Homo sapiens: one gene and its partner. The protein of the gene in region 1 interacts with the protein of each later gene in a pairwise test. Each region holds a gene or a part of one and is shown in the gene's direction. Other genes may lie near its edges.

Region 1 (4,382 bases):
GCTTTAAGGCCAGTGTTTGGAGATCAGACATTTCCCCTCAAAGGAGGACAGGCCTGGCTCAGGTCTTCAGAGGCATCAGGAATAGACCCTGGCCTCAGCTGATTCAGAGATGGTCAGAGCAAAGGACACCCCACAGGGCCTTCTCAGGGCTATGTTTGGAAGCAGCTCTTGTTACCCCAAGCCTGCCTAGCATCAAACACCCTTCCCTTTTATCCTCAACGTTTGTGGTCAAGTATTTGTCACTGCCCCGAGGATATTTAGGGCTGTACAGAGCAACATGTCCTTGTCATCAGGAGCAAGGACACACATGGAGCGGAATCTGACTGATGGGTACACATTGTGCTTTCTGCCCGCTTCTGCAACGGAAGATGCTGGAAATGTTCTGCTAGATCTCAACAGTGTGGGTGGCTGAAAGCAAACTCTGTCCACCACACAGACATAGTCTGAGAGCCCCCTAAGTGTGACTGCCCTGGGCCACCTGGATCCCCCTGCTGGGCTCTGAGCAGGGACATGACTGGTCTCTGTGCAGGCCGCAGGGCAGCTTAGTCCCTGTCACAGCCCCAGAATGATCGCCCCCACCAGGCCCAGGTCGGTCCTCCTGTAAGTCTCCTGGCAATACTGCTCTAAAATCCCACTTCCAGCCCAGTGCAGGGACTCACGCCTGTAATCTCAACACTCTGGGAGGCCGAGGTGGGAGGATCACTTGAGCCCGGGAGTTCGAGATCAGCTTGGGCAACATAGTGAGACACCCGTCTCTACAAAAAAAAAAAAAAAAAAAAAAAAATTAGGCGGGTGTGGTGGCATGCACCTGTGGTCCCAGCTACTTGGGAGGCTGAGGCAGGAGGCATTGCTTGAGCCCAGGAGTTGGAGGTTGTAGTGTGCTAGGATAGCGCCATTGCACTCCGGCTTGGGCGACAGAGCGAGGCTGTTTCTGAATGAATGAACGAATACATAAGTAAATAAGAAAATAGGTAATACATAAAATAAAATAAATAAAATAAAATAAAATAAAATAAAATAAAATAAAATAAAATAAATAAAATAAAATAAATAAAATAAAATAAATAAAATAAAATAAATAAAATAAAATAAATAAAATAAAATAAAATAAAATAAAATAAAATAAAATAAAATAAAATAAAATAAAATAAAATCGCACTTCCCAGCGGTTACACCCGGCCACGGAGGTCCCCAGGCTGGCTGCGAGGGCGCCGGGGAGGTCACTGTTACTCCAGCCCCGCAACCCGCGGCGGCCCTCGCACACTTCCGCCGGAAGTCAGCCCCTCAGGGGCGCCGTGCTGATGTCACGAGCCCGCAGGAAGTCTCGTATCGCGCCCGGGAGGCGCCGGAGCCCAGCGGCTGGCGGTAAGGCCGCCTCCGCGGGGCTGTGGGAAGCTTGGGCTGTCCCAGGACCGTCAGTCTCCTCCTCTGACCCTCCCTTTCCCCTTGTGTGTAGGGCCGCCGTCCCACCCCCACCTCGCCCGAGTCCGGGGCGGCCCCGGTGTCCCCTCCGAGCCTGCTGCACTCCACGTCCCCCTACCAGGGCTCCAGCCCCCAGGGAAATCTCCGACCAGGCCCGCCCAGGAGGTGCCTTGGATGGGGGTGGCTTCGGGAGGCCCTAATGGGGAGTGGCGGGGAGAGACCCAAGGCTACCGACTTGGCTTATTTCTTCCCAACTAGCTGTTTCTCACAAAGTCTTTATTATTATTGTATTTTGAGACGGGGTTTCGCTCTTGTTTCCCAGGCTGTAGTGCAGTGGCGCGATCTCGGCTTACTGCACCCTCCGCCTCCCGGATTCAAGCAATTCTGCCTCAGCCTCCCCAGTAGCTTGGATTACAGGCATGCGCCATCACGCCCAGCTAATTTTTTTTGTATTTAGTAGAGACGGATTTCACCATGTTGGTCAGGCTGGTCTCGAACTCCTGACCTCAGGTGTTCTACCCGCCTCGGCCTCCCAAAGTGCTGGGATTATAGGCGTGAGCCACCGCGCCCGGCCTCTTTTATTGTTTTTAGAGATGGGGTCCAGCTCTATGGCCCAGGCTGGAAGGCAGTGGCACGATCACAGCTCACTGCAGCCTCGACCTCCTGGGCTCAAGCCATCCTTCCACCTCAGCCTCCCAAGTAGCTGGGACCACAGGCGCGGGCCACCACGCCCCACTGATTTTTAAATTTTTATGTAGGGACAGTGATCTCACTGTGTTGCCCAGGCTGGTCTCGAACTCTTAACCTCAAGCTATCCTCCTGCCTGGGCCTCCCAAAGATTTGGGAGCAGGCCTAAGCAACTTAGTCTGGGCCATTTCTCCCAAAGTCTTACCCATTCATGCTGGGGGTGCTGAAAATCCCCTACTTCCAAATCCTTTTCCACAGGTATTCTGCCTTTGACTGCAACTCTTGTCGTCTTATGTGGGTGTTGAATTGATCTGTCTCTGCAGCCAGATCCAGGCTCCTGGAAGAACCATGTCCGGCAGCTACTGGTCATGCCAGGCACACACTGCTGCCCAAGAGGAGCTGCTGTTTGAATTATCTGTGAATGTTGGGAAGAGGAATGCCAGAGCTGCCGGCTGAAAATTACCCAACCAAGAGAAATGTAGGCTGGGTACCCTGAATCACCCCGTGAGAATTGCTGCTGTTTGTTTACTCTCACCTATCATGTCATGAATAGCTTCTTGTTTGGTTATCTCACTTGGCATTACAGCCCAGAATCTTATCTGCTAAGGTCAAAAGTGACCAGTTCCGGTATCTTTTTTGGTTTGTTTTTGAGACAGGGTCTCATGCTGTCGCCCAGGCTTGAACTCCTGTGCTCAAGCAATCCTCCCGCCTCAGCCTCCACAGGCATGCGCAACCACACTTGGCTAATTTTTGTATTTTTTGTAGAGATGGGGGTCTCGCTTTGTTGCCCAGGCTGGTCTTGAACTCCTGGGTTCAAGTGATCCTCCCACCTCAGCCTTCCAAAGTGCTGGGAGTACAGGCACGAGCCACTACGGCCGGCCAATTCCAGTACCTTTTTTTTCTTCTTTTTTTTTCTTAAACCGCTACACTATGGAAAAGAGTTCCAGTATCCAGTGTCTTTTCTTTTTTTTTTTTTGAAACGGAGTCTCGCTCTGTTGCCCAGGCTGGAGTGCAGTGGCGCGATCTCGGCTCACTGCAACCTCCGCTTCCTGGGTTCAAGAGATTCTCCTGCCTCCACCCCCTGAGTCGCTGGGATTACAGGCATGTGCCACCACGCCCGGTTAATTTTTGTGTTTTTAGTATAGATGGGGATTACACCATGTTGGCCAGACTGGTCTCGAACTCCTGACCTCGTGATCCGCCTGCCTCGACATGCCAAAGTGTTGGGATTACAGGCATGAGCCACCACGCTCGGCCTCAGTATCCAGTATTTTAACGCAGGCCTGTGTGTTGACTCTGGTTCCAGAGGGTAATTCCTGATGGTTGTGGCCAGTGTCCTGGAGGGATGCTTCTTAGGACAGGATGCCTGATTCTGGGTGCAGGGCTCCTGACTGCCTCTAGGAGATGCTTGTTCTCAAGGCATTGTCAGCAGATTCTTTGGGGACACATCTTGTATCTTTGTGAATATTTAAGGAAGTAAAAGAATGATTCATGCCTGGGGGCAAGGAAGGAGGATGCATGTTCTTTCTTGGTTTATTTTGGATTTGCAAGTTGGAGATGCTTCAAAGGCAGGCCACAGTCTTAGGGTGTTAGATTCAAAGTTTTTATCTTGGGCAGGTGCAGTGGCTCACGCCTGTACTCCCAGCACTTTGGGAGGCCGAGGCAGGTGGATCACCTGAGTTCAAGAGTTCGAGACCAGCCTGGCCAACATGGTGAAACCTCATCTCTACTAAAAATACAAAAATTAGCCAGGCATGGGGTGCGTGCCTATAATCCCAGCTACTCAGGAGGCTGAGGCAGGAGAATTGCTTGAACCTGGGAGGCGGAGGTTGCAGTGAGCCAAGATCACGCCACCGCACTGCAACCTGGGTAACAAGAGTGAAACTCTGTCTCAAAAAAAAAAAGTTTATCTTTCTTTTTTTATTTTTTATTTTATTAAATTGAGACAGGGCCTCACTATGTTGCCCAGGCTGGTCTCGAACTCCTGAGCTCAAGCGATCCACCCACCTCTGCTTCCCAGAGTGCTGGGATTACAGGCATGAGCCACTGCACCTGGCCCAGAATTTTTATCTTGATTGAGGGAGCTCAGGACCATTTTGGAGGCCCCACTGAGAGGCAGCAGGCCTCTGTTATGTGTGCCTAAGAATTGGTGAATTCTGTTCTGTTTGTCTTTCTGCTTTTTGCTTTGAGATGTCATTAAAGTCTAGATGAATTCTGTTTTGGTAGCCATTTGGGAGTTGATGTCTGAGAATGTGTGCCATGGAAGAAACCTT
Region 2 (3,812 bases), on another chromosome or scaffold:
AAAAGCCTCCGAGGGTTGTTTTGAGGATAAATGAGACAGTATATCCAAAAAACTTAGCAAACTATCAAACCCTTTACAAGTATATGATGCTATCATCAGCAGCAGGGAGTGGGGGGAGAAGAAGAGAGCGATGGTCAGGATGGGGGCAGTAAGTGTGCCTCACACGCCTCAGGCCCCTGACACTGCTTTGCACAGTGCTTTATGCCCAGCAGGTTCAATAAATGCCGATTGAGTAAATGAATGTCAGAAGCAGCCCCAGGCACCTGATCAATACATACATGCAGGCCTCCCGCTGTGGGCTCCAAATGGGAAGAGGGCTCAGTTGGTTTTGCAGAATACAGCATCAATATGACATATGCTTCATTACCTTAGAACAGGAAGATTTGCTGCGTGGTGGCATTCCATGTCACCCCACATGGAATTAGGCACTTTGCTTTTCCCCGAGGCTCCAGAGTGATGGTGGTTGGTAGGACATGATCCATATTCTTCTACTAAAGCTGGAAGAGTGGGTGTGTCAGACAGGGATGAGAGTGTGGAGATTGGGCAGACCCTCTTCCACCATCCTCTCTGACCCATTGCTGGAGGTGTGCCCTGTTCATTGATTGGACATGGCACCACATTCATCCCAAATGGCATCAATTGGTGGTTTTCAATTTGCAGTAGCAAAGTACCTGGAAGTCATGTGCTTTGTATGAAACACCTTGGAATGCTGATAAGTTTAATTCTATTCTGTAAAAGAGGAAGACTTTTGTTAGCTGAAAAGCCAACTATATTATCCATGCATTATGCTTCAGTCACAACCAAAACTCCGGCTGTCAAGTTCATCAACTCCTGATGCCTCCCAAGTCTGCTCCTGAGCCCCTCTGGTCCCTTTTCTCTGTGAATATGCGACACCAGCCTCCCAGAGCCCCACGCAGAAATCCTAGCATTACCCTCAACTCCTTATCTCCCTGCTTGTCCCATACCCACTTTTGCCCCACACCTATCCAAGGACCAAGGACCATGAAATTGACTTGCAGTTTAGCTCCTAATTCTGAACAGGTCTCTCCATCCTCGTTTCCACTATCTTCGTTCAGATGACCACAATTTCTAACCTAAATTACAGCCAAAACATCACTCTCCTCTGAGCTCTCTTCTACACCATACACTTTCTAGAACACCAGTCCAATAGGGTCATGTCTCTGGGCCCAACCTCTCAGGGACTCTCCAGCTGACAAGACACAATCTGGCCTGTAAATGTCCCTGCAGTTTAATTATCCTCAACGTTACTGCCATACCCTACATTTTTGGCCAAACAGAATTGTTTGCTGTTTGATGATTTGATACCATGTCATATTGTCTGTCTGGAACATCCCCCCACCCCTCTCATTTAGCAGGCTAAGTCCTCCTTCTACTTCATCCCAGATGATACCCACTTCAGGAAGTCTTTCCCTTCTGTGGGATGAGATGCCCATTCTGCAGGGCTTTCACTCCCTGCATCCTGCCAAACCTCATCATCTCTTACCTGGATTCCTGCTACAGCCTCCCAGTTGGTGTCCCGCTTCCACTCTGGGCCCCTCCTCTCCGTTCTCCACAGTGCTGTCAGAATCACCTATTCGAAAGGCGAATCTGATCATGTGGTTCCTGCTGCCCTTAGGATCATGTATAAACTCCTAGCATGACTTTTAAGGCCCTCTATGATCTTGCCTATTGCAACCTCCCCAGACTCAACCCTTGCCAGGTCCCTCTGCATCAGCTATCCAGAATCTCTTTGAGGCCCTCCACCTGCTGTCTACCTCTCTACCTCTGTGCTTTGCATATACTGCTTCCAATGTCTAGACCTTCTGCTGACTCCTAGTTCTTTACCTGGCTAATTCCTACACATCCTTCAGTTGTTTGTCTGTTGAACATCACTTCCTCTAGAAAGCCTTCCCTGAATACCTGAACTAGGTTATGTATCTCTCTCCCTGTTCCATTTCCTACTCCCTATCACCCTTAGATGTAATTGCTTGATTAATTGGCTGTTGTTTCTCCTAGAATGTGAGCTACAGAACCATGTATATTTTGTTCCTGCCTATATTTCTAGAACTATATAGAACAATGCTTAATAAATATTTATAGAATCAAGAATGAATGAATACCCATTTCTGTTTCGATGACTAGAAGGTAGCAAGCCTGGTTAACTGAAGTGTGTGGTGCATGGGTCGTGCTTAAGAAGTGTTTGTTGAATGAATAAATAAATGATGGATCAGCTCTGTTCAAGCTCATCTTATTATGCATTTTTAAAAAATTGTGTTTGCTCATTTGTCCTACCAGCTGTAAAAACTTGCTAGCAAAAGAGTGGCAGAAGGCCCAACATTTTTAGAAAATTCTTAGCCGTAAACCTTAAAATCCCGAGTTGGAAAATTCTCATTATTAAATGCCAGGAGTTGGTCTTCTTCCTGGAGACCTCTGCAAGAGGCCCTCTCACTGACACCTTGTGTCCATTTTTCCTGGCCAGAGCCTGGCCACCCAGTGGCTCCACCGCCCTGATGGATCCACTGAATCTGTCCTGGTATGATGATGATCTGGAGAGGCAGAACTGGAGCCGGCCCTTCAACGGGTCAGACGGGAAGGCGGACAGACCCCACTACAACTACTATGCCACACTGCTCACCCTGCTCATCGCTGTCATCGTCTTCGGCAACGTGCTGGTGTGCATGGCTGTGTCCCGCGAGAAGGCGCTGCAGACCACCACCAACTACCTGATCGTCAGCCTCGCAGTGGCCGACCTCCTCGTCGCCACACTGGTCATGCCCTGGGTTGTCTACCTGGAGGTAGGTGGGCCCCCTGCTTGCTCCAGCACTTTCTCCAGCAGGGCCCTGCACTGGACACTGGGGACTCTAGCTCCCCACTGGCTTTTACCAATGAGTTTCCTGGTGCTTCCCCAGGTGGTTTTTCCTTCACTCTGGGCTTACTTTTTCTCCTTACGAAATGGGTAGATTGTTTCCTTAATAATCCCAACTACCATTTGTAAAGTGCTTACTAAGTGCTGGGCCTCACGTAGGGACTTTAAATATAGCATTTTCCTATATAACCCTCACAGCAGCTTAGAGGCTGGCATTATTGCCACCATTTTGCAGTTGATAAACCAGGTGGTCAGAGATGTTAAGTAACTGCTGCAGCATCACACGGCTGGCAAGTCCAAGCTGGAATTCTGGCCTCAGAGTTAGTTCCTTAGGTCATATTGGAAATAGGAGTAACCGGCAAGGATCCCCAAGGAGGGGCATGTTTATGCTCCCAGGCCCCTGAAACCTTCACTCCCATCTCCCCACTTCAGAAATGGGTCTGCTGCTTTATGCTCCCCATATCCCCTCTCCTTCCCACAGCTTATCCTGGGGCCCTGTCCAGGACCTGCAGGTAGAGGCTGCCATGGACTGTGCTGTAGCCCTTTTGTTAGGAAGAATTGTGTAGTCACTCATTTCTTGGCCCAGCTCTGCACCTCAAAATGGGGAGTAGGCAGCACAGTCTAGACACTGTGCCTGGTGCATTGCTGACACAGACCCAGTGAATACTCTTGGTAACCCTGGGAGTCCATGCTACTCTTCTCACTTTACAAAATAGGAAACAGGCCGAGCACGGTGGCTCACGCCTGTAATCCTAGCACTTTGGGAGGCCGAGGCAGGCAGATCACGAGGCCAGGAGTTCAAGACCAGCCTGGCCAACATGGTGAAACCCCATCTCTACTAAAAATGCAACAATTAGCCAGGTGTGGTGGCATATGCCTGTAATCCCAGATACTTGGGAGGCTGAGGCAGGAGAATTGCTTGAATCTGGGAGGCAGAGGTTGCAGT

The links.
Region 2: the proteins of ZDHHC4 (region 1) and DRD2 interact in a two-hybrid assay, tested with the Homo sapiens proteins (one large-scale study listed by BioGRID and IntAct).

Annotation. Positions count from the first base shown.
Region 1 is NC_000007.14:6,576,134-6,580,515, forward strand, and holds the start of ZDHHC4 (palmitoyltransferase ZDHHC4), read left to right. Parts: upstream 1-1,320; 5' UTR 1,321-1,365; exon of another isoform or gene 1,366-1,587; intron 1,588-1,744; exon of another isoform or gene 1,745-1,839; intron 1,840-2,367; exon of another isoform or gene 2,368-2,432; 5' UTR 2,433-2,530; coding exon of another isoform or gene 2,531-2,587; exon of another isoform or gene 2,588-2,613; intron 2,614-4,382. UniProt on the Homo sapiens protein: Palmitoyltransferase that catalyzes the addition of palmitate onto protein substrates including the D(2) dopamine receptor DRD2, GSK3B or MAVS.
Region 2 is NC_000011.10:113,423,350-113,427,161, reverse strand, and holds part of DRD2 (D(2) dopamine receptor), read left to right. Parts: intron 1-2,479; 5' UTR 2,480-2,510; coding exon 2,511-2,795; coding exon of another isoform or gene 2,796-2,799; intron 2,800-3,812. UniProt on the Homo sapiens protein: Dopamine receptor whose activity is mediated by G proteins which inhibit adenylyl cyclase. Positively regulates postnatal regression of retinal hyaloid vessels via suppression of VEGFR2/KDR activity, downstream of OPN5.